Homo sapiens: one gene and its partner. The protein of the gene in region 1 purifies or fractionates together with the protein of each later gene. This does not show direct contact. Each region holds a gene or a part of one and is shown on either strand. Other genes may lie near its edges.

What was found. The genes of interacting proteins can lie anywhere in the genome.
Region 2: the proteins of RDH8 (region 1) and NBEA purify together in Homo sapiens (affinity purification with mass spectrometry; one large-scale study listed by BioGRID and IntAct). This does not show direct contact.

Annotation. Positions count from the first base shown.
Region 1 is NC_000019.10:10,012,077-10,016,283, forward strand, and holds the start of RDH8 (retinol dehydrogenase 8), read left to right. Parts: upstream 1-1,406; 5' UTR 1,407-1,421; coding exon 1,422-1,524; intron 1,525-4,207. UniProt on the Homo sapiens protein: Retinol dehydrogenase with a clear preference for NADP. Converts all-trans-retinal to all-trans-retinol. May play a role in the regeneration of visual pigment at high light intensity.
Region 2 is NC_000013.11:35,193,768-35,197,273, forward strand, and holds part of NBEA (neurobeachin), read left to right. Parts: intron 1-2,096; coding exon 2,097-2,535; intron 2,536-3,506. UniProt on the Homo sapiens protein: Binds to type II regulatory subunits of protein kinase A and anchors/targets them to the membrane. May anchor the kinase to cytoskeletal and/or organelle-associated proteins.

The sequences.
Region 1 (4,207 bases):
ATGCAATTGGACAAGCGCAGACACGCAGGATGTGAGGGTGTTTCCCCAGGGAGGGGAGGAACCAAGAGGCGTATTCTGAGCCCTGAACTGCTCCCCGAACCCTGCTTCCCCCACCTCCGCCCCAGGGGAAGAGGGAGACGCAAGCAGTGCCTCCCTCCCAGCCTCTGACTCCCCAGACAAAGAGTCTCTGTGTCCCTGAAGAGGAGGGGTTGGGGCCCCATCAAGCCTGAGGGGGAGATGGGGGCCCCCCAGGGTGGGAGGAGGAGAGGGTATCTCTGTAAGCTGTGCCTCCTCCCACCCCAGGGACATCTGAGGCTGAGACTTCTCCAACTAAAAGACTCTCACAAAATTCCTGCCCTGCCCTGCCTTGCTGGAAGTTCTTCCTATAGTCTAACTACATCTTCTGACAGTTCTACACCCCTTCCCTCTATGAAACACTTCTGGATCCACATTCTCTGTCTCCTTCTCTCACTCTCTCCCTTCAATCAGAGATTCTTCACCCAGAATACAGACACTAATTCCCCCCAACTTTCACAGAAACTCTCCCCAGCCCTAAATAATTTATACTCGGCCAGGCTCAGTGGCTCATGCTTGTAATCCCAACACTTTGGGAGGCTGAGGCGGCTGGACCACTTGAGGTCAGGAGTTCAAGACCAGCCTGGCCAACATGGCGAAACCTCATCTCTACTAAAAATACAAAAATTAGCTGGGTGTGGTGGCACACGCCTGTAATCCCAGCTACTCAGGAGGCTGAGGCAGGAGAATCATTTTACCCTGGAAAGCTGAGGTTGTAGTGAGCCGAAATTGCACCACTGCACTCCAGCCTGGGTGACAAGAGCAAGACTCTGTCTCAAAATAATAATAATAATTTACAGTCATAATAAAAATTATAAATTAAGAAAACAGTTACAAATGGCCAAGGCAGGAGGATCACTTGAGGCCAAGAGTTCGAGACCAATCTGGGCAACATAGCAAGATCCCATGTCTAAAAGAAAAAGAAATTTAAAAATTAGCTGGGCATGGTAGTGTGCGCCGGTAGCCCCAGCTACTCTGGAGGCTGAGATAGGAGGATCGCTTGAGGCTGTGGTGAGCTATGATGGTGCCACTGCACTCCAGCCTGAGTGACAGAGCAAGATGCTGTCTCTTAAAAACAAACAAACAAAAACCAGTGATGTCTATAGTAGGTGCGGAGAAGAAATGTTTGGCAGATGAAGAAAATGAGGTGCAGAGAGGATTTAAGAGATTCTCTCTTACTGCCTGTTCAGGGTCAGTCCAGAATTGAGGGTCTCCGGGGGAGGGCAGAGGCTTTGCCCTGCAGGGGATCTGTGGGAGGGGGTTAGGAGGGAGCAGATGAGCCCAGGATGAATGGTCAGAGTCAGGTGCTGCCCGGCGGAGGTCACGAGTCCAGGGAGGGGATCAACATGGCCGCTGCACCCCGGACTGTGTTGATCTCCGGCTGCTCATCAGGAATTGGTCTGGAACTTGCAGTGCAACTGGCCCATGACCCCAAGAAGCGCTACCAGGGTAAGAAGTGCAGGGTGGCACTAGGAGGCAGCCGGGTGGAAACGGCTTCCCCAGCACTGTCTCCCCTACCCATCCCTCCCAGCTGCACTTGTGGGCTTGGGGAGACCCAGGATTCCCTCCAGGAATCATCCCCTCATCCTAGAAATATTTCTTGAGCATCTTCTGGGTGCTCTGAATGCTGGCAACACAACTGGAGATGAAATAGACAAAAATCTCAGCCCTCAGGACGGGTGTCATGTGGGGAGGAGAGGGAGAATGGGTGATAAACAGATAAAAAGAAATTGTTGCTCTATCTGGTGGGAATAAGTGCTGAGACACAAAATAAAGCATGCTGAGAGTGGCAGGGGGTGGGTGGGGGTTATTTTTAGAAGGGTTTCACTAGGGCATTTCCTAGATTGGAATAATCACTACCCTGATGCTCACTCTTCCACGTCTCCCCAGATTATTGCTTTTACTGAGATAAGCTTCTTAAGTGCTCCTGACCTTGGGGGTTGAAGGGATGGCCTTCTAGTTCTAAGAACTTGCCCTTCTGCACCTCTAGAATAAATCCCTGGGACCTGCATCCTAACCAACCAGGAGAACCCCTGACCCAGAGGGAGCATGCTGGAGTCAAAGTGGGCAAAGGGTTGTTACTTACAAAGAGGCGACTGGGGGTGAGGGCATTGCCCCAGTTGGCAGGGCTGCTTCTCCCAGCCCTCTGCCCTCTGTTTTAGAGACGCACACAGCTTTGAGCATGACAGCCTGAATGCCAGTGTGCAGGGAATAACGTGTGTCCCTATGGGCGGGCAGATGGGTGTATGAAACTGCTGGAGGCTAATGTTTATGGAGCTTTTACAATGCACCAAGCTGCATTCTAAGTGCCCTGAATCCAGGAAGTCATTTAATCCTCACATCACACCCGTGAGGCAGGCACAATCATTCACCCCATTTTATTATTATTTTATTATTTATTTATTTTGAGTCAGAGTCTTGCTCTGTCACCCAGGCTGAGTGCAGTGGTGCATCTTGGCTCACTGCAGCCTCCACTTCCCACGTTCAAGTGATTTTCATGCCTTGACCTCCCGAGTTTCTGGGATTAAGGCATGCACCACCACACCCGGCTAAGTTTTTGTATTTTTAATAGACAAGGTTTCACCATGTTGGCCAGACCGGTCTCGAACTCCTGGTCTCAGGTGATCTGCCTGCCTGGGCCTCCCAAAGTGCTGGGATTACAGGCATGAGCCACCGTGCCTGGCCTGCCCTATTTTAGAAATGAGGAAACTAAGGTGCAGACTGTGAAAGGTCTTTGCTCAAGGTCTCCCAGCTGCAAAGTAGCAGAGCTGGGATTTGAACTCAGGCAGCCCATCCCTTGCACCCATGTTTCCCACTATATCACATGTAGATGCAAGTGACCCCATTCACGTGCCTGCTACCCACAAATCACACTGACCCGAAGACAAGAGGCAAATGCCCCCAGGAGTGTTCATGGGTGATTATGGGTGCACACATTGGGGGATATCAAACACGTATGCTGGTGCATGTGCAGACATAGTACATATGCTGAGGTCCTGCTTAAGAACATAAGCTTGAGGCTGGGCACAGTGGCTCATGCCTGTAATCTCAGCACTTTGGGAGGCCTAGGTGGACAGATCACCTGAGATCAGGAGTTTGAGACCAGCCTGGCCAACATGGTGAAACCCCGTCTCTACTAAAAATACAAAAAATTAGCCAGGCGTGGTGGTGGATGCCTGTAGTCCCAGCTATTCGGGAGGCTGAGGCAGAAGAATGGCGTGAACCTGTGGGGTGGAGCTTGCAGTGAGTCGAGATCATGCCACTGCACTCCAGCCTAAGCGACAGAGCATGACTCTGTCTCAATAAATAAATAAATAAATATACAAAAATTAGCCAGGCATGGTGGCAGTGCCTATAATCCCAGCTACTTGAGAGGCTAAGGCAGGAGAATTGCTTGAACCGGGAGACAGAGGTTGCAGTGAGCTGAGATTTCACCACTGTATTCCAGCCTGGGCACCAAGAGCGAGACTCCGTCTCAAAAAAAAAAAAAAGGGCATAAAAGCTTGGCCAGGTGCTGTGGCTCTCTGGCTCCTCACGCCTGTAATCCCAGCACTTTGGGAGGATGAGGTGGGCAGATCACCTGAGGTTCGAGACCAGGCTGACCAATATGGTGAAACCCCGTCTCTACTAAAAATACAAAAGATTAGCCAGGTGTGGTGGCAGGCACCTGTACCCCTGTAATCCCAGCTACTCGGGAGGCTGAGGCAGGGGAATTGCTTGAACCCAGGAGGTGGAGGTTGCAGTGAGCCGAGATTGCACCCCTGTACTCCAGACTGGGCAACAAACAAGAGTGAAACTTCGTCTCAAAAAAAAAATATATATATATATATGGCTATTCACTTCAGTGTTCATATATGCACATATGTTGGCTATAGTTGTGTATGCATTTTTTTCATGGCAATCTGTTTTATGTTTATATATTTTATTGTCTTACCTACTAGGCTATAAATTCCATGAAGGCAGAAACTTTATCTTATTTATTTATTTATTTATTTATTTATTTATTTATTTATTTTGAGACAGTCTCGCTCTGTTGCCAGGCTGGAGTGCAGTGGCGCTATCTCGGCTCACTGCAAGCTCCGCCTCCCGGGTTCACGCCATTCTCCTGCCTCAGCCTCCCAAGTAGCTGGGA
Region 2 (3,506 bases), on another chromosome or scaffold:
TTATCATATTCCACAGATTAATCTATTCTTTCAGTCTATCATCTTTGACCAAACTAACAAATAAACAAACAAAATTTAAATCTATTCAACAAATATGAGGAAAACTATGATATAACATTGCATTGTGATAAATGCATATTTTAAGTCAGTTTAAATTAGTATTTGATATTAGGAATATTGAATAATATGAGGATGTTATTTATTCCTAATTTAATGTATAGATTTGATATAATTTGACTCAAAAGAAAAGGGGGAGAAAAAAATGGGAGATTTTATTTCAAAACCTGGCAACATTTTTCTGATGCTTATCCTAGAAAAAGTATTATAAATTCACACCCTCAGGAAATCTGAATGGTATGCCATTAGTTTAAATTCAAGCAATTAAAAAAACTGTCTAATAGACAACACCCAAGAATTGAGTCTGTTACTGACAAAATCCCTTCATATTGTTTTTAATTTTTTAGTATGTGTGTACAAAACTTTCAGAAGCTGTGATCACACCCAACAATTCTATCATCAGAACAACACTTCTACTAGAGATTTCACAAAAGATTTTGTGAGATGTCTTGCTGACATCAAGGTAGCCTATTTTCCTGTTGGGCAGTTTCCTGGTTTCTTGTCCTAACAACCTTTGAATTCAAAGAAACAAGCAAATAATAACAAAATCTAAGAGAAGTTATATAGAATTTACTGATTTTCAATTTTTAGGAGATCTTTGAAATAATTTAGTCTGTGCTTCTCATTTTCAAAGATTATGAAACTTTCAAACTTAAATGCAAGTTTAAGCAATACAAATAGCTAACATTTACTGAGCTTCTACTTTAAAGTGAGAACTGCAGTGAATTTACATATAGTAGCTTAATGGTATCTTACTTTATTCAAAACGATTAAGTTAAGGACTGTTATCTCCATTATACTTAGATGAGATACACTTTTCAAGGTTATCGTTTAGAATTTGGTAACATTTTATTATATGGAGAACTTTATTACATTAACCTTTGTATGATGAAATTTGATAGAAATTTAACATTTTAAAGATTTTTTTATTTCATTACTTTTAGTTGTTAATATTATATGTGTATTTCATTATCTGTGTAGTTATATGCACATATATGTTTCTGATTTAATTTTCACAAATTGAAATTTATATTTATTTACAAAGAATGAGCATGAGTATTCCAAAATATAGGCCTTGTCCTTGAGGAACATTATTATATTATTAATGTATTTATTCTTTTGAACTAATCATTTGACTTGCTTTGCATTTTGCAAGTGTGTCAGAATTTTACGTATTGTAATTTTAAAATGATCTTCGATTATCTTGAATATTTCAGATATTATTAGTTATTGAAGTACCAAAGAAAGTATAAAAATGACTTTATATTTTTAAGGAAACTAATAGAGAAATATAAGAATTTCTCTTCTATGATTGGCAGCTAACAATCAAAGGATAAGAGGGGAACATCATATAATTATTATTTATAAGCTGCTTTAGGAAATTGTTATAGGAACTATTTCCTGATGCTTTTGAAGGCATCAGTTTTGAAATGCCAGATGATTTAAGAAGCAAGAGGATTATTTTGATGCTCCCTGAACAAAATAGTAGGTGTATTGGATGATATCTTTTTGTTTTTTTTTTTGTTTTTTTGAGATGGAGTTTTGCTCTTGTTGCCCAGGCAGGAGTGCAGTGGCATGATTTCAGTTCACTGCAACATCCACCTTCCAGGTTCAAGCAATTCTCCTGCCTCAGCCTCCCGAGTAGCTGGGATTAGACGTATCCCACCGTGCCTAGCTTATTTTTGTGTTTTTAGTAGAGACGGGGTTTCGCCATGTTGGCCAGGCTGGTCTCGAACTCCTGACCTCAGGTGATCCATCTGCCTCAGCCTCCCAAAGTGCTGGGGTTACAGGCATGAGCCATCATGTCTGGCTGGATGATATCTTTCAACTGAGTTGTGTTACTACTATGCACATCCGTTTAGCAATTTTTTGTTTCTACAGGTTTTGTTTTCTTTATTTGAATATATGAAAACATTTGATTAATAATACAAGATTTTTACTTTCAAAGCTTTTTTCTAACCTAGTTTCTTTCATTACAGAAACACCTGCTGCATTTCCAGACACCATAAAAGAAAAAGAAACACCAACTCCTGGTGAAGATATTCAGGTAGAAAGTTCAATTCCCCATACAGATTCAGGAATTGGAGAGGAGCAAGTGGCTAGCATCCTGAATGGGGCAGAATTAGAAACAAGTACAGGCCCTGATGCCATGAGTGAACTCTTATCCACTTTGTCATCCGAAGTGAAGAAATCACAAGAGAGCTTAACTGAAAATCCTAGTGAAACGTTGAAGCCTGCAACATCCATATCTAGCATTAGTCAAACCAAAGGCATCAATGTGAAGGAAATACTGAAAAGTCTTGTGGCTGCTCCAGTTGAAATAGCAGAATGTGGCCCTGAACCTATCCCATACCCAGATCCAGCATTGAAGAGAGAAACACAAGCTATTCTTCCTATGCAGTTTCATTCCTTTGACAGGTAGGTACTGAACTTATTATTCACAGGGCTTTATACATAAAAGGAAAATTAGACTTTGTTAATTTTAAAATATAAGGAAGATCTTGAAAACTTTATTAACGTAGATTCTTATTACAAAGACAATCAAAATGATGGCTCAACCTAATCTTATAATAAGACATCTTAATAATACATCTTAAAGAAGAGGTTTCAATGTGATATGATGGATAGCACATTGAATTGGAAGTAGGGAAACATGGATTATGGTTATATTCCATTATCAAAGGACTACAGTACATCGGGGTGTTATTTTTCTCTTTGGACTTAGTCGTTTCATGTACATAATGGGGAAGGGGATGGGTCACATCTGTCCAAGGTTTATCCTGGCTCTGAAATTCCATTATAATATTATAAAATACTATAATAATTGTTGGAGATTATATGACATGCTTTAAGTGATAATATTTAAATTTGAACCTTAAATGGAAGTATATGGAAAAATTTTAAAATTGTTTGTGGTCATCTTCTTTATGAGATTTCCAATACCAATGTAAAAGCTGTATTTTGAAGCATGTATTTAAAAGTAAATATTTTTGAAAGGTATTTTGGCATTTTAGGTATCGAAACTATTTATAACATGGCCCATATGTCATATATCTACATTCAAATGTTAAATCATGCAAGGAATTTTTTTAAGGAACAATTAACTTTTTATTCCAGTATACATTCAATAAAAATGATAGTTCACAGAAGCAGAATAAGATATTTTAGAACCTAATACCCTAGTCATCTAATATCTTCCACTATTTAAAAACATGTGCAAGATTAGAAGAATATTTTAGTCACTAATTACTAACAGTAGTACTTAACATTGATCACTGGGGTTAATGCCTATTCCAAATAATGTTTGCGTGTTAATGTATTAACTGAAAAATGTGATGGCTTACCTTTTAAAGTAAATCATTGTTATTGATGTTTTAAAACATCTTTTC